4 linked regions of the Homo sapiens genome follow. The protein of the gene in region 4 interacts with the protein of the main gene of each other region in a pairwise test. Each region holds a gene or a part of one and is shown on either strand. Other genes may lie near its edges. The genes, in order: ZC3H10, ATF2, ZBED1 and PIAS2.

Evidence for each region.
Region 1: the proteins of PIAS2 (region 4) and ZC3H10 interact in binary tests that used the Homo sapiens proteins (3 or more experiments, as listed by UniProt).
Region 2: the proteins of PIAS2 (region 4) and ATF2 interact in binary tests that used the Homo sapiens proteins (3 or more experiments, as listed by UniProt).
Region 3: the proteins of PIAS2 (region 4) and ZBED1 interact in binary tests that used the Homo sapiens proteins (3 or more experiments, as listed by UniProt).

The regions. Positions count from the first base shown.
Region 1 is NC_000012.12:56,113,429-56,121,278, reverse strand, and holds the start of ZC3H10 (zinc finger CCCH domain-containing protein 10), read right to left. Parts: upstream 3,014-7,850; 5' UTR 2,961-3,013; intron 2,863-2,960; exon of another isoform or gene 2,512-2,862; intron 2,332-2,511; exon of another isoform or gene 2,192-2,331; 5' UTR 2,128-2,191; intron 769-2,127; 5' UTR 717-768; coding exon 1-716. Other genes in the region: RPL41 (small ribosomal subunit protein eS32), read right to left, coding at 3,755-3,797, 4,068-4,090, 4,480-4,491. UniProt on the Homo sapiens protein: Specific regulator of miRNA biogenesis. Binds, via the C3H1-type zinc finger domains, to the binding motif 5'-GCAGCGC-3' on microRNA pri-MIR143 and negatively regulates the processing to mature microRNA.
Region 2 is NC_000002.12:175,109,204-175,116,233, forward strand, and holds part of ATF2 (cyclic AMP-dependent transcription factor ATF-2), read right to left. Parts: intron 5,666-7,030; coding exon 5,487-5,665; coding exon of another isoform or gene 5,483-5,486; exon of another isoform or gene 5,040-5,482; intron 4,906-5,039; coding exon 4,791-4,905; intron 2,452-4,790; coding exon 2,365-2,451; intron 1-2,364. UniProt on the Homo sapiens protein: Transcriptional activator which regulates the transcription of various genes, including those involved in anti-apoptosis, cell growth, and DNA damage response.
Region 3 is NC_000023.11:2,485,922-2,490,993, forward strand, and holds the end of ZBED1 (E3 SUMO-protein ligase ZBED1), read right to left. Parts: intron 4,852-5,072; 5' UTR 4,799-4,851; coding exon 2,714-4,798; 3' UTR 514-2,713; downstream 1-513.
Region 4 is NC_000018.10:46,823,507-46,830,536, forward strand, and holds part of PIAS2 (E3 SUMO-protein ligase PIAS2), read right to left. Parts: intron 6,362-7,030; coding exon 6,228-6,361; intron 4,625-6,227; coding exon 4,453-4,624; coding exon of another isoform or gene 4,437-4,452; exon of another isoform or gene 1-4,436. UniProt on the Homo sapiens protein: Functions as an E3-type small ubiquitin-like modifier (SUMO) ligase, stabilizing the interaction between UBE2I and the substrate, and as a SUMO-tethering factor.

The sequences.
Region 1 (7,850 bases), on a different chromosome or scaffold from region 4:
AGTCTGCACTCCACCCCTCGCGGTGGAGCCAAACTATATTCATATGACTCAAAATGAGGGCCATCAGGGGGGCAGCATCCACCTCGCCGGCGTTTTGGGCCTGGCTCATGGTCCTCAAAGCCCCTGTCAGGAAGGTCATAGATATCATAGAGATCATGACGTCGTCCTGGGAGGACTGAGCCTGTTGAGCCCCCACCAGTGCCTCCTCCACCCCGAGCATCAAACTCAAAATCCCGTTGCAGGTGACGGAACTTGCACTTGGCTCCTCTCTGACAGTCACCCTTGAGAAAGTCACGGCAGATAGGGACCTCCTCCTTGCCATTTGGTAGGTCAGCCGGTGAAAGGCCAAGGCCAGCTGCTACTTTCTGCCTCAGCCGTGGGGGAAGCTCTCCTGTCTTCTTATAGCCATCCTCATCCTCCTTGGAGCCATGGATGAAACGGCAATTTGGGCGGCTACACTCCTTGTTCTGGAAGTCATGGCAGAAGATGAACTCGTTTTTGCTCACCCCCAAGTTGGACACCTCGCTCATGTCTGGGTGGCGATATCGGCAACGCTTGCCTCGCTTGCACACATTCCTCAAGAAGTCTCTACAGATGGCATCTGAGCTGGCCCCGCCACTGCCTACCCCTGCCCCACTGGCCTCCTCGCTGCCACCACCTCCAGGGCCTCCACCGCTGCTCCCGGTACCGTTGGCATAGCTGTCCCGGTCAGGCATCCTGGTCCCGCCCAACTCAGGGTTTTCTTTATCTTGCCACTCTTGGTGACCACTACAAAAGAGGAGAACTGTATCAAACAGGAGTCCTCCAGGGAGATCCCACTCTTCCTGACTATAAAGCAGGTGGCCCAGAGGGGCAATGGCTTTAGAGATGGAGAATCTAAGGGATAAGAATTCTGGCTGAAATGTCTGACTCATCAAAAGCCCCTCCCAGGGTTTTGTGCACCTGGTCTGGGTCAGAATGATTCACACTTGCCTGGCTAACGGAGGAGGGATAGGCCCAGGACGGAGCAGGGAAAAAATAGTGTTGGAATTCATCTTTCCTTTTGAGCTGACCTTATTAAAGTTGTGGAAGTGAAATTAAAACTGCAGTCAGTATCTGAATAGTCTGGAAGGAAACTGGGAATAGTGCCCAAGATGGGCTACTGAGCTACTAGGGCTGTAGAAGATGGGACACTGGTAACAAAACTTCCTTAACCCCCTTTCCTTTTCCTCAGGTAAGGGCTCTGTACACATCAAATCTCTAGAAGCCAAGAAATCCTGGGTGAAGAGACTGGTGTCACCAGCTTGAGGGGAGTCTCAAAACCTGTCATATTTTAGTATTCCCTCCCAGCCATCATCACTGTCAACGGCAGAGAGGTAAGCCCCTTCTATTTCAGGATAGGAGTTCTAAGTTAGAGTCTCCACTTCTAGATTTCCTAGGACAAACCATTTGTGATAAGGTCAAGTGGGAAGGAGTTAATTTCACAGGAACAAGTGACCTTTCCCCATTCCCCACCCCCTTCCTACTCCCCTATGTGAAGATCCCACTGACATCCAACCACACCATTCCTCAACCCAGAAAGATCCTCTTTATTTATAGACTCCATAAAAGCTTTTTAAGTCTCCTATTTCCCAAGAGAGCTTTGGAATGTCAGTCCACTGCCCTGGTTCTAGCCCTCCCCTCTCTCCACCCCCAGTAAGACCTGGAGTCCCTGCTACCACGTGTCTGACCTCCCAAGCCTTTCCTATGCGGTGTTCAGGCTCCCCCTGCTGCTGAAATAGGAAAACTTCATATTGTTCCCTTTGAGAATAAGGGAATCTTTCCTAATTCCTTTGGCCTTGACCTACCCCCACCCCACTACTGTGACTTTGCCTTCAGATCTCCCTAAAATGAACTAACCAAACCAGAGGCCAGAGTTACAAGAGAATCTGTAAGAGGGTCCTCCTCCTCTAAAGAGAGGTAGTCCCAGAATAATAGAAGCAATCAAGGAAAGAAGTGGTAAAAGAAGATACAAACTTTTAGTAAAGGGGAATGACCAGGTGAAGTACAAATGCCATCTATCCAAGCCTGGCTCACGTTGCAAGTCGCACCAGCAGCAGATAATTAGTTATGATGCTCCTCCCCACCCCACTCTCCCAGAATTGATACCTGAGGTAGCTCAGGTGAAGTCCGGGGCTCCTGTGGGTCTCCACCTCCACATCACTGCTGGGTTCTGAGCAGGAAAAAAACAGAGACTTGGGTGGAAGAAGGAGTAAGAGTGGAGGACTATGGGGTGGTTGTCACAAGAAATCTGACAAAACGGCAAAGCTTCGAGAACGTGAGGATTTCCTCAGGGTTCAAACTGAACTTCACCTGTCCAAGGGAGAAGTTGCCAGTAAGAAGAGTAAAACTAATTCGGAGGGACTGGGAGGAGGGGTTGGAAAACCAGCCCTGAGTGAACAAAGAGTGCGGGGCGCCCTGCCTCAAGATGAAAGAGGATGTGAGGGTCAGAGCACCGCCAAGGGCTGGAGTTAGTAATGGCTAGTGAGGAACCTCAAAAAGGCAGCGTCTGACAGTGCATTGGGATGGCCGATTAGACTTGAAGGCAGTGATTGTGACGCTTCCCAACACCCTAGAGTTTGCGAAAGAAGTCCTAGGAGTTTTCCCGCAGCAAGTCTTCTAGCTTGGCAGGTTCCGTGCAGTGCCGCCGGCGCTCAGCCGTGGGCTACGTGAATGGGACACTAAGGGCGCGCGAAGTGAAGCGGGGAGCTGGAGCTCCAGGTGTCATCAAGCTGAGGGGATGGGCAGGGTTGTGACGTCACGAAGCTGGCGTTTGCTCGCGATGCGGGGTCACTCAGAAAAGGGGCACTGCCCTGGGGTGTGAGGACGAGCCAGCTCGGTTCTGGGGGGCCTTCTGTGGCCTGGCCGAGCCCAGCCGCTGGGCCGGCCCCGACTCCTCCCCTCCGGGCGCGGCCTCCACCTAAGTCTCCCGCCTCCCTCACCTGCCGCCGCCGCCGTAGTTGCTGCTGCCGCCTGCCGGTCCTCTAGCTTCGACAAAGAGCCGCCTACCCGATCGCTCTTCCGCTTCCTGCGGAAGAAGTGACGCTCTAGCCAGCAGACCCGGAACCATACTCTATGGTGTATGAAGTACGCGTGCGACATGCCGCAGGGCGTTCCCAGCACGCTTTGCGTGTCACTATGGCAACCCAACCCAAAGGCACGACATGGTCTAAGCGGTAGTCGCCAAGGCAGCCCTCCTGGAAAGGGGCGGTACCAGCATTGGCCCCTAATAACCCGCGAAACCTAAAACCTGCCTCCAGAGACGTACCATATCCCATCCAACTCCAGCGAGATGCAAACCACACCACGTAACCCGGGCTGTTGCCTTTATAGCTTTGATACCCTCCATAGCACAGGTAGTGACAGGGCAAACTCTAATGACAGAAAACCCCCACCCGATGGAACCATAAAAAACATAATAGACAAGATGATTTAATTCTTCAGCTAAAACAGCGGAAGAGGTGATTTATTATATGGTTGTTACACTCGGCCACAAATAAACACAGAAATAGTCCAGAATGTCACAGGTCCAGGGCAGAGGACCAACATGGGCATTTTGTTTATGAGCAAGGTGGGTCTCAGAGGTGATCGGCGATCAGAGGGCGATGAAGTTCTAGATCCATTGAGACAAGCTCTAGACAGTAGCATGCAGTCCCACAACTTGTACCAGCATCCCCAGCGTCTGGCATTCCATGTTTCTGCTCCTGTGGCCTCCACGGTGCAACAAGCTAGCGGTTTACTTGGACCTCTGCCTCATCTTTCTTCTTTTGCGCTTCAGCCTGAAAAGCAGACACAGGAATGGAATACACCTCAAACCAGAGTTGCCTTTCCCTCCCACATTAAATCAAACGTCCACATAAAGAATGAGGTGGTAAAATGAACAAGCACTACGGTTCTATCGTTCTCTGTTCTGTTAAATCCTGGCTCCAGGGAGAAAACACTCAAACGTTTTTCTCCTAAAGATCTTTTAAGATTTCCAAACCAAATGTTTCTCCTAAGTTTTGTCCAAGGAACTTCCCTCCTCCTGGGCTGGCAAAGTCTCAACGTACCTGCGCATTCGCTTCTTCCTCCACTAGCAACCGATCACAAGCAGCAGATAATTAAAAAAAAAAAAAAAAAAAAGGGATGAAGCTTATTAGTAGGCTTAGCAAGGATATGAAATGCACTCTTTAGAACCGGACAGATTCTTAACCAAGAAGTATGAAAGATTGGTCGTAACAACTACATCAGTAACTTGGACACCCTCCCAACATAAGATCAGAATTCCACCCTTTTCTAAGCCCACCCTCTCTACCCATAGCACTTAACCGCTAGCTCTCTCACAAACTACCTTCTCTCTCCCACCAGCTCTTGGGCACCCTTGAAACCCAGTAGTTCAGGAGGTATGGCGGACTTGCCTTCGTCTCCTCGCTACTACTCGCCAACTCCTACCTCCCAAGCTTACTACCAGGAACCGCTCACCTTGGCTCTCATGGCGCAGAGGTTTCTACAGGGAAAGAGAGAAAGGCTACAGTTAGTTTGCTGTGATGATGCTAAGTGCCGAGGTCAGATGTCTATGGATTGTACACGGAATCCCAACGCAGGAACCAAAAAACACTCACCCAAAAAAATGGCGCTAAGGCCGAGAGAAAGGCGAAGTTCCGTCTACGGCTATTTAATGGAGCGCCGGGTGTCGTCACTTCCGCTTTCACGCCCTTTGCCCCCCCCAAGGGCGGGGCTACCCAATGGGCGTAACAGTGGTTTTCGGACCCTCTTGTAGAAGGGTAGGTTGAGTTAGTTCTTTCGGAAGACCGAGTATTTGGTTTTCGAGTTACCAGTTCCCCCCCAGATTTAGTATGAGGACGCTGTGTTATTTAAACGTCAGCACCTATTTCCAATATTGGACCTAGAGGTGCAGACGGGGAAAAAATAGTGACCGCCACCTTCCCTCGCATTGCTTCTTGGGAGTTGCAGTTCCCTGGAGAAGTCCTCCATTTTGCTATGGATAGGCGCGGACTGTACAGAAATTCTTGTTTTACTGGTTTGCCTTCTTTTCTTTCTTTCTTTCTTTCTTTCTTTCTTTCTTTCTTTCTTTCTTTCTTTCTTTCTTTCTTTTCTTTCTTTCTTTCTTTTTTTCTTTTTTGAGACAGGATCTCACTGTGTCACCCAGGCTGGAGTGCAGTGACGCGATCTCGGCTCACCGCAATTTCCGCCTCCTGAATACAAGCGATTCTCCCGCCTCAGCTTCCCGAGCAGCTGGGACAACAGGCGCGCGCCACTTGGCTAATTTTTGTATTTTTAGTAGAGACGAGGTTTCGCTGTGTTGCCCAGGCTGGTCTCGAACTCCTGAGCTCAAGCGATCCGCCCGCCTCGGCCTCTCAAAGTGCTGGGATTACAAGCATGAACCACCGCGCCCAGCCGGTTTGCCTTATTTTCTAAAATAAATTGCTGCAGGGTGATTCGATTCCGGAACCATCGAAGGTCCTAAGATTTCAGAACATAGGAAGATATAAAGTGGGGATTCGGGAAAGCTGCCATACTTCAAAAAATATTTTCTCACTGTTTAAGATAGAGCAATTATTTTTCCTAAATTTCAAGAATAAAATAGCTGATTATGGTCTTCCCCCACGATGCCCGAAGCAAAATATCACTAGAGATTCCTGGCTACAATGCATCATTTGTTCAGAAAATACGTCAGCGGGCTGGGCACGGTGGCTCATGCCTGTAATCCCAGCGCTTTGGGAGGCTGAGGTGGGGGAATCTCGAGCCCAGGAAGTCGAGGCTGCAGTGACCTATGCAGTGATTCTCTAGGGGTGAAGAGCGAACCAACGGACATAGGGAGAAAATTACCTAAATCTAGGGAAAGTATGACATTTGGTGTTAAGATAAAGAACTTCCCAGTTTGATTGTATGCTCAGGTGAGAAGCACTGGAAAACAACCAGATCCCCTAAGATTTGGCTACAGGAAACTTTTGAGTTAATGGGGGATGAAAAAGAACCCTTTCCCTATAGAGACTTCATCTTACAGTTTTAAAATACTGTAACATTTTGTATGTGATTGTTACAATCCCTCTTTTTTTGTGGTTTCCCTTTATTATATTCCAGGATAGCATTTCACTTTCAATCCCTGAAAAACGTTTTTAAAATTAGGTTCCTTCTAAGTAGTTGTAGTATTGTCACCACCCAAATATATATGACAATTTTTTTGAAACAAAAAAAATCCTAGCAGAATTATTTTGTATCAGTTCCACCAAGATTTCAACTGATGATTGCCAACTAGTTTATAAGCTCTTTGAGGGAAATTTTGTTTGCTTGTTTTTGATACGGAATGGAATCTCACTCCTGTCACCCAGGCTGGAGTGCAGTGGCGCGATCTTGGCTCACTGCAACCTCCGCCTCCTGGGTTCAAGCGATTCTCCTGCCTCAGCCTCCCAAGTAGCTGGGATTACAGGCGCCCGCCACTAAGCCTGGCTTTTTATATTTTTAGTAGAGATGGGGTTTCACCATGTTGGCCAGGCTGGTCTTGATCTCCTGACCTCAGGTGATCTGCCTGCGTCGGCCTCCCAAAGTGCTGGAATTACAGGTATAAGCCACCGCACTTGGCTGTTTTTTTCTTTTTTTAATAGACTTAATTTTTTAGAACAGTTTTAGGTTCACAGCAAAATTGAGAAAGGTATAGACATTTCCCACACATATAGCCTCCCCCTTTATAAACATCACTCCACCCTGCCAGAGTGGTACATTTGTTAACAATAGAACCTACGTTGATATACCATTATCACCCCAAATCCATAGTTTAGTTTACACTAGGGTTCACTCTTGGCATTGGCATTGTACATTCTTTGCCTTTGGACAAATGCGTAAGCAAGGAGAGAGAGATGAACAGGCAAAACACAGAGGATTTTTAGGGCACTAAAACTACTCTATTTTAATGGTAGATATACATCATTACACATTTGACCTGTGTTCAGTTCTGTTCACTTGTAGTATCTCTAGTTTAGCAATTCCTGACATGTAGTAAGATAAACTAATTACCCATCTGACCTTAGTCTGGCCCTGAAAACTAGTGTACCATTCTTCCTGGCTTCTTGAATTCAAGATAAACACTTGCAGTACTGTTTTTGCAGTAGACATTGTGTCCTAGCCCCAAACAAATCTTAGCAGTGAGGACTGTTTCTACTTAGAAAATTACACCACCCAACTCCAGCAGATTACTATATCATCAAAGATTCTAAGATTTGTGTCTTCTGCAAGTCAAGACATTCCTCGTTTTGGGAAGGTAGAGCATGGCACTGTGGAGGAACAGTTCCAATACCACTTCAACTGACATTCTCCCCACCTCCATCAAACAAGAGCAGCATACAAAGCACATCATTATGAGCAAATCCAAATTTATTTTAATGTCATGTCATTTTCAATGTGTTTAAAAACCTCATAAGTTAGTGGGAGCCCTAGTTTCCTGGGACAGCATGCCAGAGGTACTGAAATTTGTCACCTTTCTCTACAAACCCCCAGCAATCCAATCCAAGTCCATAGCTTCAGAAAGCCAGGAGTTGTGTCTTCAGTCAGTCTACGCCTCTGGTTCTTGGTTTTTCTTTCATGGGAGGGAGATCACAATATTTCAAACAGGGAACAAAACCAGTTGAGCTTCCAGCTCAGGTCTGTGTAAGATGGAGCGAGGAAAGACCCCACTGACTCCAGAGAAAAAGGGTAAGGTTGAGATGGATTATTTCTTTACAGCTTTGTGAAAATGGAAGAAAAAAGATTTACAAATGAGGATCCATTTCATAGATGAGAATCTCTTCATAAATGAAGGCTCCAGCTCCTAAAATGGGAGGGGCCTGACTGGACAG
Region 2 (7,030 bases), on a different chromosome or scaffold from region 4:
GGTAGCTTTATTCACAATAGCTAAACACTAGAAACCATTAAAGTGTCCATGAGCAGGAGAATGGACAAAGAAATTGTGGTATATTCACACAATGGAATACCACTCAGCAATAAAAAGAAGCAAACTGTGATCACTCAACAACATGGATAAATCTGAGACATGCTGAGCTGGACATAAGAGTATAAAGTGGCTATTTATATGAAATTCTATAACTAATCTATGGTTACAAACATCAGAATAGATGGAGTGGACTGATCGGAAAGAGAGAAACTTTTATTCTTTTTAATTTAATTTCCTGATGACCTAAAAGAAACAGTTATTCAGGTTAAGTGTAAAGTTTAACAGTTTCTAAAAATATGGCCTACTCTTGTAAATAAAGGTATTTCTTAAAACTGGATTTGTTCCTTTTGAATTAATTTATAGAAAAAAGTCCAATGAATATGTAAAAATACTTTTAGATGCAGTACACAATAACAGGATCTCCTTTTAATATCTATATCTGCTCTATTCAGTTCCCACTGCATGGTAAATTAAATTGAATTTTTCATCAATCAGTATACTAAAATAGGAAGTGCAAAAAATGCCCCTGGTGAAGCTCTTCTGCTATCAAGTGAAGAAGATTCATCTTAGTATTTCCAAAGCTCTGACCTGAACATACTATGATGTGAAAAATTTCCTCCTTGGGTTTTTAGGGTCTTCTCTAACAATCAATAACCACCTAATTTTTATACTCTTCAACCAACTGCTGTTCATTCAGATAATATGTAAGTTTTATTGCTAAAACAGGGTGTCCTGTGCAAATTTCTGACTGATTGTCTGCACTAATGGAGAATAGCAGTAAAAATTTTTCAGGCCGGGTGTGGTGGCTCACGCCTGTAATCCCAACACTTTGGGAGGCTGGGGAGGGGGGATCACGAGGTCAGGAGTTCGAGACCAGTCTGACCAACATGGTGAAAACCCGTCTCTACTAAAAATACAAAAATTAGCCAGGCATGGTGGTGCACACCTGTAATCCCAGCTACTCAGGAGGCTGAGGCAGGAGAATTGCTTGAACCCAGGAGGCGGAGGTTGCAGTGAGCTGAGATTGTGCCACTGTACTCCAGCCTGGGTGAGAGAGCGAGACTCCATCTCAAAAAATAAATAAATAAATAAATTCAGCTCTGCAATATGTTTTAGCATGTAAAAATTTGTATTTAGTATAGTGCCTAGCAAATAACTGAAGCAAATAGAAGGTGTCTAATAACTACTAATCTATTGATTTCCTAAGGATACATTAATTAATTGCTGTTGTTAGCCCTATTATGATATAGAACGTTAACATCTACCCAATTAATCGATGTTATTAATTAACTGACATTATTGTATTATAACACAGCAAGGAGAATTACACTGATTTTTATTTTATTTTATTTTATTTTTGAGATGGAGTTTCACTCTGTCACCCAGGCTGGAGTGCAATAGTGCGATGCTGGCTCACTGCAACCTCGGCCTCCCGGGTTCAAGCAAATTCTTGTGCCTCAGCCACCCGAGTAGCTAGGATTACAGGCATGCACCACCACGCTCGGCTAATTTTTGTATTTTTAGTAGAGATGGGGTTTCACCATGTTGGCCAGGTTGCTCTCGAACTCCTGACCTTAGGTGATCTGCTCACCTCAGCCTCCCAAAGTGCTTGGGATTACAGGTGTGAGCCACTGCGCCCGGCCCTGATTTTCTTTAAAAATAGAATCGTCAGATCTTCTACTAAGAAAATTAGAACGTTTATAGGATTTAGGGTTAAGAAGTACCCCAGAAACCAAAGCTTAATCTTTTTATTTTACAGATGAGGAAATGCAATCTCAGGAAAGTTACAGTTGCTTAATTAAAGGTAGTGAATAGTGGAGTTAGGATTAAAATTAAAATTAAAATACACATCTAAACATTAATTTAATAGCATCCAAACAGCACAACAGAAAAAAATGGTTTTATCATGTTTGCTAACTTGTACACTATTTCAGAATTCTTTTTAATACTGTTAAAACCACTCATCATTATTAGCAGCACTGCCTTCAGATGATCACATCTAGTTTCAGATGTAATACTCCTATTTTCCACTAGGAGGAGAAAAAGCCACAAGAAAAAGCCAGACAAACAACAAGTGACAAGAAACAGAACTTCTAATCTGCCACTAATTTTAAAGTATCACTAACTACTCACTATGCTAAAGGAAGATTTCTTTTTTCAAATTTTGTGGTTTATCTATAGTATAAAACAGTCCGTAACTTTATAAAAATGTGATCTAAATTGTGCATTTGAAGCAGGCTTTAGTGAAAACATTAATTCAAAACAGCCTCAAGCAATGTACAGAACAAATAAAATCTGGCTTACCATTTTTGCTTCTGACTGTACTGGTTGGGGAGAGGAAGGACCTGGGATTCCTGGAACACTAGGCACCATGGTGACTGGTCGAACGAGCTATGCATGACATAAGGAAAAATAATTGCTAGAGAATATATTCAAAATGAGATTTGTACTTTACTGCTGTTGTAATAATTTGAGACTTTAAGAATCAGAACATTGTAAATTTATCACCAGCTGATTTTATCTCTATACCAAATCCTTATTTGGTCTTATATCCTGACTTATCCTTCAAAAGTTGTCAATTTCTGAGACGTGTGCTTTCCTAATTTTCAGTTTCTACAATTTCTTTCTTAATGGTCCCTGTTAGAAATTCATAATATTCAAAGTGATTAATGCAAAAATTCTCAAAGATCTGTCAAACTTCCATTTTGAATATGAAAGGAAGAATGTCAAAACTTGTGACACTTAGGCATAAAAAATAATTTCAACAATGAATTTTGCTTTTCTAAAAATATATACAATGAATTTTCTTATACATACCACATAATAACAAATAACACACTGTAATAATTTCTGAAATAATCTGTAACAGGTTTTACCATTTTGGTTTTTTCCTTTTTTTTCTTAAACCTAACACTGAGTGAACACAGTTACTGTATAAATAAAGCATATCTTTTCTTTCATTTCCGGTTGCTTTCATCACTAGGTACATGTAACAGGATAATCAGAATCTCAAAAACAAGGCAAGAATGTTTCCCTCCTCAAAAAAATATTCTCAGTAAAGAGGAAGCAGATACCTTATATCTGAGTCCTTACAAAGTCTCTCAAATAATGCATTTTGAACAAAGTTCTTTTTAAAGAAGGCACATTATCTTGAAATTACGTCAATCAATGCTAATTTTGGATAGTTTGAAAGATCACGTGGAAGAATTAGTTAATTAAAAAAAGATATAAATATCAAACATTAATCCTAGTAATATTCTTGGGGGTAATCTCACCGAAAGTGTTGGAATGTTACTATAAGTAAGCTTTTAAAAATAAGTTTTATTTTTTATTATTTTTGAGACAAGGTCTTACTTTGTTGCCCAGCCTGGAATGCAGTGGTGCAATCTCGGCTAACTACAGTCTCAACCTCCAGGCTCAAGTGATCCTCCCACCTCAGCCTTCTGAGTAGCTGAGACTACAGGTGCTTCCATCACAACTGGCTAATTTGTGTTTATTTTTTGTAGAGATGGGGTTTTGCCATGTTGCCCAGCCTGGTCTTGAACTCCTGGACTTAGGCAAGCCACCCACCCTGGTCTCCCAAAGTGCTGGGATTACAGGCATGAGCCACTGCACTTGGCCTAAAAATAATTTTTAAAAGCTACACTGTAAATGATTACACTGTACTGATCAGTAACAAGCATCTTAGAAGGTAAAAGAAAAAACTATCTTTTTATTACATAAATAAGTACCTAATGCTTGGTGTAAGATTTCCAGGGAGAGAATAATAGAGAGATTCATAAAGTAATATCGTAAATGATTTAGATGAAAAAGAAAATACTGTGTTCTGGAAACTGTGCTAGATGTCTCAAAAAGTGGTTCTCAGGATGAAAATTTGAATGTCAAAGACATAACTGAAGAGTTTGTTTGAATAAAACTGTTTTATGTAATGTAAGTAAGAAAAAAGCAATTTTCTAACACACATTATTCCAAACAATGTGTTTTTAAATGTTCATTAAACTATTACTTTTTTTTTTTTTTTGACTTGGGGTCTTGCCCTGTCATCCAGGCAGGATCCATAGCTCACTGCAGTCTCAAACGCCTGGGCTCACACAATCCTCCTACCTCAGCCGCCCAATACGCTGGGATTACAACAGGCATGAGTTGCCATGCCTGGCCAAACTATTAAATATCATAAGTAGATAGTTAACTATTTTGTCTACGTCTTTCAAAATTTATATATTTAACACACCCCTCAAAAAACTTTTTTGCGGGGTCTTTTCACAGGGAAAGTGAAAGATTATTTTTCTAGAACATTTACATTTTAACATGCTGGGCTATCAAAGATTCTACAAACCCTACTTGACCACAAAAATTCAGAGTGTGTCTTTATAAACAATTTCCATACTAATAGAAATACCACAGAGTTACCTGACAAGTATTCTAGTACAAATATCTTTCTAAAATTTGAAATCTGTGTTAATATTTGAATGCTACAAGTCCAGTCAAATTGATATGGGTTGAATAAGAAGATCTCAGTATAAAAAAAAAATTAAGGTTTTGGGGAGAAGAGAAAAAATAGCTATACCTTGAATGGTATATGCTATTACAATGATAACAAATAAATACTATCAACTGCTAATCAATATTATGTTAAATTCAATTTCATAAGCCAGTCAAGCAGCCAACTTTATTTTCTGACTACAAAGATCAGTTTTGCGATAGAGATTTAAATAGTCTAACTTTCTTACTGGGACTGCAGCTGGAACATGCACATTAGAACTTGTAATTGATGCAGGAATAGCAACAGGCATGGTTTGTCCATTAGGAAGATGTAACAGAAGAGGAAATGGGCCTGGTACAGGGCTAAGAAAAACAAAAGAAGAGAAATTTTAAAAAAGAGATTCATACCAACTGTCTCTTAAAAATACAATAGTATTTTTACTCCTATAATCATATCATTTAAAAATACATTTTCTAACCACAGCAAAGCAAATAGCAAAATTTAATTATTTTTAATTGCATCTTAAATGCATAACCTGTGTAGCAGTATTGAAAAGAAGAGAAAAGTTATGGATTTACTTAGGACAATCTCCAATTTGTAAAATGAGAAAAACTGTCATCAGAGAGCTCTTGGGAGCTACCAGTAAGAACTGAAAGAAATGGAATCTGGTGATGCAGTAATTTTATATTTTGTGTGAAATAGCATGAAAATAAGACTATCTTAAATTCACATTCTATATTTGTTTTTAGTTGTATTTATCTCCCACTCTGTTAGTTAATATTTATATTAAAGAAGACTACGCAAGTACTTTTTCCAAAATTCGAAGCATGCACACACATACAAAACTAAGATCTTAGTTTGAATAATCAAATGTCTTAGGAAAAATCATTACAAAACAAACTTAATTCATGTATATGTTCAATGATTGGCCTGAATCACTTACACAATTGGCCTGTTAGAGGATGGTGCCTGGGTGATTACAGTACTTGAGGTTGGTGAAGGTACTGCCTGCTGAATAATTACACTTGAGTCAGAACTTGTAAGCAGCACATTGGGAACCTGTAATGATGCTGGACGAACAATAGCTGATGTGGGCTGTGCAGTTTGTGCCAATGGTACTTCCTATTTAACAATGAGATAAAAAAGGGTGGCATTTAAAAATACAAATCATGTACCTTAGTGAACAGAATGTAACACACTTCTAAAAGCATCTACAGAATAATAACTGCTAAAAGCAAATTAATATCTCAAATTAATTAAAAGAACATTTTAGAAGAGCTGTAAAGATTCAAATGCAATGTTCAATTAATATTTTAATTTTAAAAAGACTCGTTTTTTTTTTTTCCAGTACAACTTGTTCTCCTATCAATCCAGAAATAAGTTAGACTGGGCAACTTGGCTATGATACCAAGAGAATTTTAATAAAAAATAAAAATATAATCCATTCTCAGAGAATCACAGAACTTAAAATCCAGAAGGGACTGTTTAGTCCCCCTCCCTCATTATACTGTATGAAGAGGAAACAGGTCCAGTGAGACTGTGTTATGGCTGATACAATTAAGTAACAGAAATAAGAACTTTTAGAGCAATACAAATAATTGTTAATTCCAGTTAGCTACCTCTTCTATATCAATAATTTCTTCATATCAAAAGGCCACGTAATACTGATATCTTGAATGTAAAATAAATAATTACCGGAGTGAACTCTTTCAAGTCAGGAAAACAGAATTTGTCAGCCAAGACCTTAAAGATGGTATTTCCTCTGGTTTTACAAATTATAGAACAAAAAGTTTTAAAAGATTTTACCCAGAACTCCTTAAATAGTCAGTGTAAAAATTGGGTCTATGGTGTTTTATGAATTGGCCTGTATGCTGCCACTTATCATCAAAATCTTATTAAGCTACATAGGAAGAAGGATAAAGTAGTAGTATTGTAACTTCATTTATTCAGTAAGTTGAGAACTTATGCTCCCAAGGACTAGCTCTCAAGGAAGAGACAATAAACAAGTAAAACAAGTAAGAAAATTTCAGATTGTAGTAAATGTTAAGTGTTACAGAATAATACGTGCAATGTAACAAAGGATGAAAGATTAGCTGAAGGTAAGGAAGAGTCAGTTAATTTAGACAGCATAGTAAGAATAGGTGAGCTTCTTTGCAAAAACAGCATTCGAACTGATGATAAAAGGATGAGGAGGAGAGCATTTCATTGTAGGGAGAAGGAAGCAATACCATATATGTCATGTCCTGAGGTAGGAAAAAGCTTTGAATATTTGATGAACACAATAGAGAGGCATGAGGTAAGGATAGATGCGTAGACAGGCCCAGATCAAAGAGGGCTTATGCCAAGGAGTGTGAATTATTTTAAATACAATGGTAGACCATTGAAAGATTTTAAGCAGGTGACATATTTAATGTATTAAAAGTCATCTTACAGAAAATGGATTGGAGGTAGAAGCAGGAAGACAAGTTAGAAGGTAACTGTTAATAA
Region 3 (5,072 bases), on a different chromosome or scaffold from region 4:
AAGAAGGAAGAAAGGAAGGATTTGTTGGCTGAAGAAGAGAGGGAGGGTTGGACGGAAGGAGGAGGGAAGGAAGAGACCATGTGAGAGGAGGTGAGGAAGACAGGAAGAGAGGGGTGATAAGGAGGCTGGGGGGAGAGGGAAGGCGCTGATGCCATCCGGATCCATCCAGGCTGCCTCGTCCATGGGGCCTCCGTTTATACAACTATCCACTAAGTGAAGGAACCGGCAAAAATCTCTGCTCCCGGGGAACACTTTCACCAGCTGCCGGCTTTATTCACTCAGAAATTTTGATGCCAAAACACCCGAAAGTACATCATAACTTGAGGATTTACAGACAAGAAAGAGGAGCACAGAACTGACCGTGGGTGCCCTGGAAAAAGTTGCTTTCAACAAGGACCACAACAAAAATAAAAATAATAATAATGATAAACCTCCCTCCACTCCCAGGATCAAGGGGTTCAGACAAACTGCAGTCCAGACGGACACGCGGCAGACAAATGAATGAGGAGCTAATGCATTGCTCTGGTTTATTGAACAACAGTCCAACTTTACAGCATTAAATAAGGGGCAACCGTTCAGGAGGGGAACGATGGCTTAAAAATAAAAATGAAGACAGAGCCGGGACAGTTCACATTTCCACGTGAGTGAGGAAAAGCGAAGGATTGTTAGAGACGTGAAGAGAACGCTGGCAATGCTACAGAATGGAGCCCACGGAGGCGTGGGCTGCCCTGCGTCCCCGGCCTCGGGGCAGAACAGGGAGCAACCCCAAAGCCTGCCCCACTGTGTCCCTTCCAGCTGCCCTTCTGCCGAGAACACCCGGAGCTGAGGGTTCCAAGTTCACGGCGGAACCGCTTCCCTTAAAAAGAAAGCAAAGGTTACGTGGATTTCTCCCGTGCTTCCTTTTCCACAGACTTAAACCGGCTCAGGACGTAAGGATAACATTCTGTGCTGCTTGCAGCCCTGAGAAGTCAGCAGCCGTGAAAGGCAGGTAGTTCCTTTGCCCTCTGACACCCCGAGTTCTTGGGGTCTCGGCAGAACACTGCCTGGAGCTGAGTGGGGTCATCCCTCCTAGACACCGTTCTCCCCAGCCCAGCTTGTCTTCACGGAGGCAGAGAACCCGCTGCACGTAGAATCCAAGCAATATGCTAAGCCTCCTGAAGTATTTTTCCTCCAGTTAAAAAGCAGTTCTACATGTTGGAAAACGTCTTTCTGTTTCCCTGAATGACTGAAAGCAACTCGCAGGAATCCAGCCACGGAAAACCCCTCCGGGGGCAATATTTTAAAATTCATTTCCCCTATGGTATTCAGTTTAAAAGAGAAGAATCAAGAGTCCTTTCCGGTAATCAAATCAAAAACACCTTATGTGGAAAAGCTGGCCGCACGGGGGAACTGGACTTTTAGGGCTGAGACACCGAAGACATAACCTCCGGACCCGTGAGCCACCCACTTTTGTTTTGTTTTGAGACGGAGTCTCACTCTGGCCTCCAGGCTGGAGTGCAGTGGCGTAGTCTTGGCTCACTGCAACCTCCACCTCCTGGGCTCAAGCGAATCTTCCGCCTCAGCCTCCCGAGTAGCTGGGATTACAGGCGGGTGCCACCGCATCTGGCTAGTTTCTTGTATTTTTAGTAGACACGAGGTTTCACCATGTTGGTTGGCCAGGCTGGTCTCGAACTCCTGACCTCAGCGTGAGCCACCACGCCCGGCCACCGCCCAGTTTTAAGGACCAACTCCGCAAAGTGAAATTTCGGCAGGCAGCAGGAAGCAGGCTCTCTGGCAGCAACCTGTCGAAAATACAACACATTCCACACTTTTTTTTCTGTTTGCTTTTTGTTAAGTGTCTGCATTTTTGTACTCATCTGTCACATTTTTAACCGAACATTAAAAAAAAAGGTCTCTCTTTTTAAGAAGGGCATTTTGGCTAAAAGGTCTCTTCCCCATTTCTCAGAAGCAAGAGGTCCCTGCTTGCACGAGAATGTAAACATGAATTCAGTGATCTGGACCTCGCAGAAGTCACACATGATGATCGGGAAAGGCTCCTTCGACGCCACCCAGAATGTTCCTGCGTTTCTTCTAAACCCTCCCAGGGAGAACTCGAATCAGACATGGTGGAGGTCTTAAGTATCTGTGAAGGAAGGAACAGCTCCTCTAGGCTCTGCTGCACGCAATTCCCAAGCAGAAGCGTTGGCAGTTCCCAAGCAGAAGTCGTCCGGGCCCCGGGAATAGGGGAGGAAAGGAAACCCACTCAAAGCCACCTCTCTTGTGTCTTCTTTTTTCTTTTTGAGAGAGTCTCGCTCTTGTCGCCCAGGCTGGAGTGCAGCGATCTCAGCTTACTGCAACCTCCACCTCCCAGGTTCAAGCGATTCTCTGGCCTCAGCCTCCAGAAGCTGGGATTACAGGCACATGCCATCAGTCCTGGCTAATTTTTGTATTTTTAGTAGAGACGGGGTTTCGCCATGTTGGCCAGGCTGGTCTCGATCTCCTGACCTCAGCTGATCTGCCCACCTCGGCCTCCCAAAGTGCTGCGATTATAGACAGGAGCCACCGCCCCCGACCCTCTCTCACTTCTCAAATCTCTTTCCTTTTTCCACCTTCTAGGTGTCAAAGACAGTGGATGGTCTCTGAGGTTCAAAACCAAGCTGACCGGGTAAGTATTTACAGCAAAGCATCCAATGGGCTGCTGCGGGGATGACTTGTAAGACAACACGCTTCCTCGCTACAGGAAGCTGCTGTCCCTAATGCCAAAGAAACCGCCGCTGACGCCATCCCCCAAGGAGAACACCTGCTCCTGGTCCAGGCCCCACTCCCCCTCGTCCTGGTCCTCGGGTTCCGCCTCTGCCCCACTCCGGGCGTTCTCATACAGAAACACCTGCTCGTCCACGTGCGCGGGAGCCAGCCGGTTCCTCTTGGCGCTGACCACGTTGGCGGCGGATCCGAAGAGACGCTCAGGGGCGACGCGCGTGGCCGTCACGCACCAGTACTTCTGCAGCACCTTGGGCAGCAGGGGGAAGAGGGCCAGGCGGTCTGACCACCACTTGAGGGGGTCTTCGTTGAGGCCAAGCACCTTCTGGGACTTGAAGTTGCTCAGCTCCTCCACCACCTGGGCATGCCACTCTTCCTGGTCCTCCACGCCGCCTGTCTGGCAGAAGATCTCGGCCAGCATGTTGTTGATGACGCTGGCGGGCGGCGGCGTGGATGTCCGCATGAGCTTCTTGACGGGAGGCTCCTCGGGCACCGGGAAGATCTTGTCCTCAGCCGGCCGGTAGCCGCCGTCTTTGACCTTGTCCAGCAGGCCCTTGGCCTCTTCCACCACGCGATTCTCCACCTGCTGCCGCTCGAAGGCGGAGAGGAAGGGCAGCCTCTTGTAGCGGGGGTCCAGGAAGGTGGCCACGTTGAGAAACATGTCGATCTCGGGCGTCTCCTGGTAGGTCTTGGAAAGCTCCTTGGCGATGACCTCCTTGGCCATGCTGAGCTCCTTGGAGTCGGTCTCCTTGATGTTGAGCGTGGTGTTCAGGAGCATGTGCAGCAGCGGCTTCACCATGCTGATGGTGGGGTACCTGGAGGCCGACAGCATCTCGGCCACCTGCTTGAAGGGCTGCAGGAGCTCCACCAGCCCCTCGATGGTGGCCCACTCGCTGGCCTCCAGCATGAGGTGGTGGTTGTTGCTGTCCTCCACCAAGACCCCGGCGATGACGAACTGCTGCTCCTTGAGGCGCTGCAGCATGGCCAGCGTGCTCCCCCACCAGGAGACGCGGTTGCTCACCAGCATGCAGTGGGCCACGTTCTGCTGCTTCTGCTTCTCATAGAGCATGTACATGGCCACGGCAGACTGCTGGAAGTACTCCACCAGTTTGCGGCAGCGCGACAGCAGCGCCCCCAGCTTCGGGAGCTGGAAGGCCTGCTGGATGCCGGCATTGAAGGTGTGGCCCAGGCAGGGCATGTGCACTGCGACGTCCAGCAGGGAGCACGCCTTCACGATGTCCTTGCCATAGTTGGTGGTGGCCCCGAAGACCTTGGCGCTGATGCCCCACTCGATGAAGACCTCATAGAGCACTCGCGTGATGGTCTCCGCCGTGTTCTCTTCGGGCACCTCGAAGGTCTTCAGGCAGCGGGAGCCCATGGACAGGCAGTTGGGGGCGCCCAGGCCCAGGAAGTGGGCGGCCAGCGTGACGTAGGCGCGGTTCTGATTCTCACTCCTCCACATGTCGGTGGAGATGCCACACCAGGTGGCCTCGGCCAGCTCCTTCAGGATCACCTCCCGGACGGCCCCGTACTTCTCAGGGATGGCCTTGGTAGAGATGTACTTCCGGCTGGGCAGCTCATACCGGGGGTCGGCCGTCTTCAGCAGCACCTTGAAGGTGGGCTCGTCCACGATGGAGGCTGGGTACAGCCCCTCGCAGATGAGGCCCAGCACGGCGGCCGTCAGCTCCTGCTGCTTCTTGCTGTCGTAGCCGTGGCCGGCCTTGACGGCCAGCGCGTCCTGCCCGGGCTGCTGGGACGACTCGGGCTTCAGCTTGGAGAAGGCGGTGGCGAAGGCTTCACGCATCTGCTCCGTGTTGCTCTTGACGAACTCGCAGAATTCCTCGGGGTGGTTCTTCTCCAGGTGGTAGGACAGGTTGGAGGTGTTTCCGGAGTAGGCGATCTGGGCCATGCAGATGCGGCAGTAGATTTTCTTCCACTGCAGGATGCATCCCTCGGCGTTGGTGTCGAAGCCGAAATACTTCCACACCTTGCTCTTGGCGCGGGGGTGGGCCACCAGCTTCAGGTCTGTCTGGGAGCTCTCCAGGCTTTTATTCTCCATTGCTTCTCCACCGGAGCCTGCCTGCTGGACGGCTGCTCATGCGTGGGGACCTGCTGAGAAGGGCCAAGACAAACACAGCATGAGAAGGGACCCAGGCACGCACGGGAGCCCTGCCGGGGAGACAGACAGGGTGCCGGGGCAGCTCCGCTTTCAACCAAAGGGCACTGGGGCCGGACGGCTGGACCTTCCTTGCGGGTCACTTTTGCAGAGTGGAGGAGGGAACCTAGCGCAGGAATACGCTCTTTCTTCCACGTTAATCCGACTGCAGCGATGC
Region 4 (7,030 bases):
ACACCTGTCTGTCACTACAGTAACACCTAATAACTGTACGTGTCCTGTCACTTAGTAACATGAAACTTTAAATGAGTAAATAGCTACTCCTTACTTAGGCAACACCAAAAGGTTGACTGTCAAAACATGTGAAATGTGAAAATCCAATGGCGGTACAAATTAGTAAATCAACATCTAAAACCTCAGCAAACATATGAAAAGCTAAACTACTTAGTGTTGGTTAATTCCCATTACCTGAATGTTGCAACCATTAATACAAATTCAACTTTACATAGAATGGCTTAAAGTAGTCATTAGTTAGGATTATCAAATTACATACTGGGAGCAGGCTTTTGTTATCAAAATCTTCACAAAGACCACATTCAGAAACAAAATGATTCTAAAGCCTATGCAAAAAATAGATATGAGTAACAGATTCCATGAAAAAATGTAAATGGCTATGGATGGTGAAATGATGGATGTAAAAATGTGATGCTATATGTTAATAAAAAGATTTAAAGCTTTTAAAACTTGTTACTGCCTCTTCATAGGATTGGTAAACACACACAGATACGTGTATACATTATGCAAGTGACCATTTATATTTTAAACGTTTGTAACTTTATCCATAATATCACAGCACAAAAGTGAATTGCTAGAATGCTGCTATATAGCAAATATTAGTATTCCGGATTATATGCTGGATCAGAGAATTGCATGAAACTCACATTTGCTCAGACTTGGATGTCTGAAAATAGGTTGACCATTTCTATTTATAACCCTGAAGTTCACTGTATGCTCCCACTTTATGATCATAAAAGTATAAAAAAGATGCAATTTTGCTACCAATTCTTAATGATTATCAATCTGGAGACATATAGATTTATCCTTATTATGTTTCCTGTCTTTAGAATACCTTCTTATTAAGGCAAAGCAACCACTCATTTTTCAGAAGGGGCACAATATGTAAAATTATCTTTTAATATGGAAAAACATCAGAGGTTTTCTAAATGTCTTAAGATTAACATACAAGTTTCTTCTGACAGGTATTATAAGACTGCATTTAAAGACTCCGGTTCGTAAGCAAAGAAAGGGAATAGGACTGCCATCAAAATGGCAATGATTCTCTCTAGGTGAGATATTTTTTGCTTTCTTCTTGGTGCTTTGTAAAATTGTTTATAAGAATAATTTTTACTAAAATAATAATACCTCTTAAAAGATAGTTGCTCACAGGCCAGGCGTGGTGGCTTATGCATTTTGTAATCCTAGCACTTTGGCAGGCCAAGACAGGTGGATGGCTTGAGCTCAGGAGTTCGAGACCAGCCTGTGCAACATGGTAAAACCCCATGTTTACAAAAAAAAAAAAAACACAAAAAAATTAGCTGGGGGTGGTAGTTCCAGCTACTTGGAGGGCTGAGGCAGGAGGATCGCTTCAACCCAGGAGGTCAAGACTGCAGTGAGCCGCGATCACACCACGGCATTCTAGCCTGGGTCACAAACTGAGACCCTGTCTCAAAAAATTAAAAAAAAAAAAAAATAGTTGCTCACATAATTTCGGGGCTGTAAATTAGAGTAAGTTTTCCTGATTTCTCATTCTCTGTTCTTTCTCATTTGCTTACTATCTTTGATGGCCAAGAAATCCTATGATAAACTTACACAGCACAGGAAAACCATAAAAACTCTAGATGCTGAACTACAAGAAAGGATATGAAAAGGACAACCAAGAACAAAGTCACAAAAGTCTAAGAGTAGGAGGGGATCACAGAGATGATATAACTATAGCATGAGCCTCCACTATGACACTGTGACAGGTGGCAGCCACTCTAACACAGAAAATATGATTTTGGGACAAAAGATTAAATTTCCTAGTATTCAGAAAGCTCCAATAGAAAGTTTATCCATGTATCTTTAGTCCACTGGACCTAAATCTGGTAATAAAGAACAAACTTAATCCAGCTAGTCATTGTCTCCCTTTTAAGAACTACAAGGTGGGTATCAAATAATCTCTTCTCCTGGTTTAACAGCTTCAGTCCTTAAGATCCACTCATCCATCTTGCTCCAGATTCCACTATTCACCTTCCCGTTCCCCTGCTCTGGCCATACTCATTTGTTAATACCATTCTTGATGATCAGCACTGACTGAAATGCTCTGAGAGTCATATAGCCTAAAATGGAACAAAACTGGCATGGTATGGATCCTGGACACTATGCTTATTTTATTAATGCTAAGAACAAACTGATTTCAGTGGTGAACTCTTCAAACCATTAACTGAAACCTGACATTTGAAAGAGTTTCTATCAGAAATGGCAATTAATTTACTGAAGGCCTTTCCAACATCCATGAAGATGACTACAAAGTTGTCCTTATGACGAGATCCATCTTATCAATGTATTTCCTAATATTAAAGCACTCCTGGGATAAACTCTAGTTGGTCACAGATGTCATTTTAATATATAATTAAATGATTTCCTAAGACTGAATTCAGAATTTTCATTTATCTTTCTATGTGAGTCTGTTTCTTAAGAGTTCTTCCGTGTATTAATGTGTATGTATGTCTAGGTTGGGTGTTAAGGGCTACATCAGCTTCATGGAACGAACTAGGTAGCTGCGCTTTATACAGACTTTTAAAATAAACTTTCATGTGTTGCTGGTTTAGTCACAAATTTCTATCTTATACTTACCAATGTTAGTTTTTGTTTTCTTTTCAGCCTAAATGAGGAACCTTAACATTTATCTCTATAGTAGCTGATCACAGATGTAAACTATCCTTATTCCTCTGCATACTGAGGTCATTTCAGATTTTGTCGCCCACTGTGTATGTGCCATCCCTCCTGTTTCATGGACTTATCAAACACAGATAAAAATGTAGTAAAGGACAGAGGGTAGACCCTTGTGGCATGCCACCAGAGACATGCTCCAAGATCACAACAACTCATGAGTCAGCATCACTAGGCATGACCTCTCAACCTGGCATGAATTCAGCCAACTGCAGTACTTGCAACTCATGTTTTTCCACTATATTCTAAAGCGTATCATTACAGAGTAAAATCCAGAAACATCACATCTAAGCATTCATTCCCCTTCAAAATACATTTTGAACGTAACCATTTCAAAATTATAACTTCATTTTCTGTTTATCATTTAAATTACAGATGTACCAACCAATTTGTCTCAAAGGAGCAATAAATGATTGGCACACCAGGAAAAAATCCACTTGAAATACTTCCTCATTTTGTTCCACACACACAAAAACCCCACCTCATTCTAATTAAATGGGTAGAAGTAAATATATGCCTTTAATATATGTGTAAATTATATTTGGAAATGTAAGTATTTTAACAGCAAAGAAGGCAGCTGAAAAGGTTTAATTCTTAAAATTATAAAAATAAACAATGTTGCAAAACAAGACATTTTATATAAAATGTCTAAACAGGCATTATAGACACAAAAAAACGATTGCCTAGATTTGGGGTGTAAATAGGAATAAACTACAAAAGAACATGAAGAAAGTTTTTTGGGTGTTGAAAATATTCTACTACTGAATCATGGTGATGATTGCACAGCTCTATGTATTTACTAAAATCACTGAATTGTGCCATTATATACTTAAGATGGGTACATTTTATGCTATGTAAATTATAACTCAGTAAAGCCATTAGAAAACCAAGTGGACCAAGAGGCCAAAAAGATGACACTAGCAAACCCAAGTTTGAAAGAATGTGTTCGTAGACAGCCAGGAGAACTCTCCTGTTATCTCCTTTTATGGTTCAAAACCTCTCTGAAAAAGCAACTATTGTTAAATACCCAAACCTGATTTTTAATGCAGGTCAGTAATGCCTTCTGCCAGATAACTTACAGAGAATCCACGCTAAAATTCAGGTAGAATGCCATCCTACCCACCTATATTTTGCCCTGGAGAGGGTGAAAAGGGAAAGGAATCAATTTTTATTGGGAAATTACCACATGCCTGACACCGAGGCTTTCTTTCATCTCATTAAAACCTGAAAATGATCCTGTAATATAGGCGTTATTTAGCTCCATTTAACAGAACACAAAAAAGAGGCTCAATCAAATTAAGTATTTCATCTAAGATCACAGAACAAGTAAGCGATGGTGTGCCAAAATTGGAATCCATACTTGTCAGATTCCCAGTTCCACACTCCATTACACCAGACTTTCTCATCTGGTCTGAGATGCCAAATTTCCTTACAAACAGGTTCAAGAAAATAACAAAAAGTCTCAGGTAGGAAATAAATACCTCACACGCTCACTTTCCAAAGATGTAAATATTTTCTCCATCAAAATTTGCTTCCTATAAACAATGTGCTTACTCGAAAATATTTCAACTCAACAAAGGCAAATTAAAATAGCCTTCTACAGTTATGCCATTTCCCAAAGAGACATTTATAAATCTATCCAAGAGCAATTAGTTGCAAGGGTAATGAACAATAGTGAACTATAAATTAACAAACCCTTTGGTTGGGCTGCTTTGTGTTTCTGACATAAAGATGCATTTCCTTTTGGCAGGAGGGTCTTCCTCTTCGTCAGAAGAGCTTTCTATTGTAAGATCAATAACATCTACTTTCTTCTTGCTTGCCTCACTGGCTACAGTCACTGAACAAGGCTTACTGAGGACGCTTGAACCTGCATGTAAAGAAACAAAAGGAAAAAAAAATTAAAGGTATAACACAAATAAACTCTAGTGGTAGAGTCTAGTATATTCAGTATAGTATGTTCCTGACAACATATAGCCAGTGAAGCCACATACTCCAACCCATGGACAAATACCAACTCCCTAACTCCAGACCTCTGTCTGTAAAATGGTTGTTCACCTAGGGAGACAGGTGAGCACTATTCCTTGACAGATGGTTAGAAGTCTCATTCAGACAGAATGTTCTTAGTTATGCCTCCAATACCACTGAAGGATTTGTGCAGCTCCTACTGCTCATCCTGTCTCTGCAGGTCAGCAGTCGTTTTACAGAAAGACACGCAGAGTTAGGGAACTGGTCTCAGGTCATGGGACAAGAATGGGTGAGTTCAACAGCTATGTATTCTCGCACACATGTGGCACAGTTAGCTCAGAACCAGATATTTCCATTCTAGCAATTATGCTTATATCAAAGAAAGTACAGACTTTTCACCATAAGCCAGAACTTGATAAAAACTTTCATCTTGATAAGTTGAAAAAAACCCAAACCTCTCAATTAAGTTACTAAGACATTTAAACTTTTCTTATGAATTATCTGCTAATCACGTAGGTTCTTTCTACCCACAAAGACAGTCTCACATACCATATTTGTTAACTCACATTTTCACAGAAAAGTATGTTATTATCTGTAATGTATTTAGTTAAAAATGAATGACAGTTGATAATGGAAAAGCAACAGAAACTTATCAACTAAATCACTCCCCATTTTTCTGAAAGATGAGAGAAACCTTGGTCACTGCACTCAGGTTTAGTGTCAATCGCAGAGGAATAATTAATAATGGCATAAATCCTTTATTTTTTCCCCTTTCTTCTTACTCCATTCATTACATTGTTTGTTAGAACTTCAAATGTAATCAGAACAAAACTGAAATGCAGTGAGTAGACTGTTAGATAAAAAGAAACTCTAAGTTCACGTGTGGGTTTCAATGAGACTGTTAGATAAAAAGAAACTCTAAGTTCACCTGTGCGTTTCAATTACTCCAAATGCCCTCAGTTTCCCTACTTAGTGTGGATGGATGCAGGCAGTTGATGGATGAGTATACATTCTAGGTAATCAAGGCAATGTTAAAATTCTTCTCCACAAAGAAATGGAAGGTAACAATTTGTTTACTTTCTGAGCAACTAACCTGTGACCATCCCCAAACCACCAAGGCCATTAACCAATGATGCAGCCTCTCTAACCTCACCTCCACCTAGGGTTCCACCTACAGATACTCTAAGAACAATTCTGAAAAACTGTCCATATAAATTCATTTGTGACTTTTTGTTTTGTAACAAACATCATATTTTAAAATGATTTTAGATGAATGTTTCCTTTATTCTACACAGGAAAAATATACTATGAAATAGCTGATAAGATGGTATAAACTTTAGCACATTCCTTCAGGAAAGAATAAAAATCATTTGGGGGAAAACTATATATCATCAAAAGACTGAGTCAACAAGCTGAATTCCAAACGTATAGTTCTAGGGGCCAAGATTAATGATAATGTTGCACGAGTCTCACTGCTTTACTCTCTGCTGCTATTCTACACATACTTTCTATTTTTGTACACGGTTGGCTGGATACTTTCATAGCTTCTTTCTTCGGTCTCATTGGACACCAAGAACCATCTTCTTGGAATTTGATCTCATCTACATCAGAACAGTCATTGAGAATTTCCATAAAAAGCCTAAAAAACAATTAAGAAGTACATACATGTGATCAACAGCTTTGCCTAAAGGTGAAATAAGAAAGTAATACACATTACCTTGAAAACATAAGTAATGTTAGCTGACCCCCTTTTCTTTTGGTATTGCAATACTTTATACTTTACAACAATTATTACACTCCCTTTGTCCTATGTTTTAAATCTGTAACAGGCAACATAATAGTTAAGTAACTTACTGAGCATCACCTGTGTAACTCAATGAGTATAAATGGCTAGAGAGAAGTAGATACCTGGAGCCTCCTAGCTGAGGCTGGCAGTAAGAACAACCTCTAACACAGCACAAAAAACAAACATCAGCAGATAAAGGTTACTATATAGTAAAATAATTTATAAACTTTAACTTCGAGAAAAAAGGATAATGGGGTAGGGGAAGGAGGGAAGAAAAGGGAAATAAAAGAAGTCTCAATAAATTTAAAATAAGTGTATTTGAATTAAGTTCAAATTAAGTCCGTACCAGAAAAACCTGAAAACTTGGAAACTAAACAAAAGAAACATGAGTCAAAGATAAAAATAAGATTTTAAACTGAATGAAAATAAAAATGTAATAAAATTTGTGGACTGTATTATTTAAACACTGAAGTAGTATTTAAAGGAAAATTTATAGCATTAATCTTCCCTAATTAGAAATAA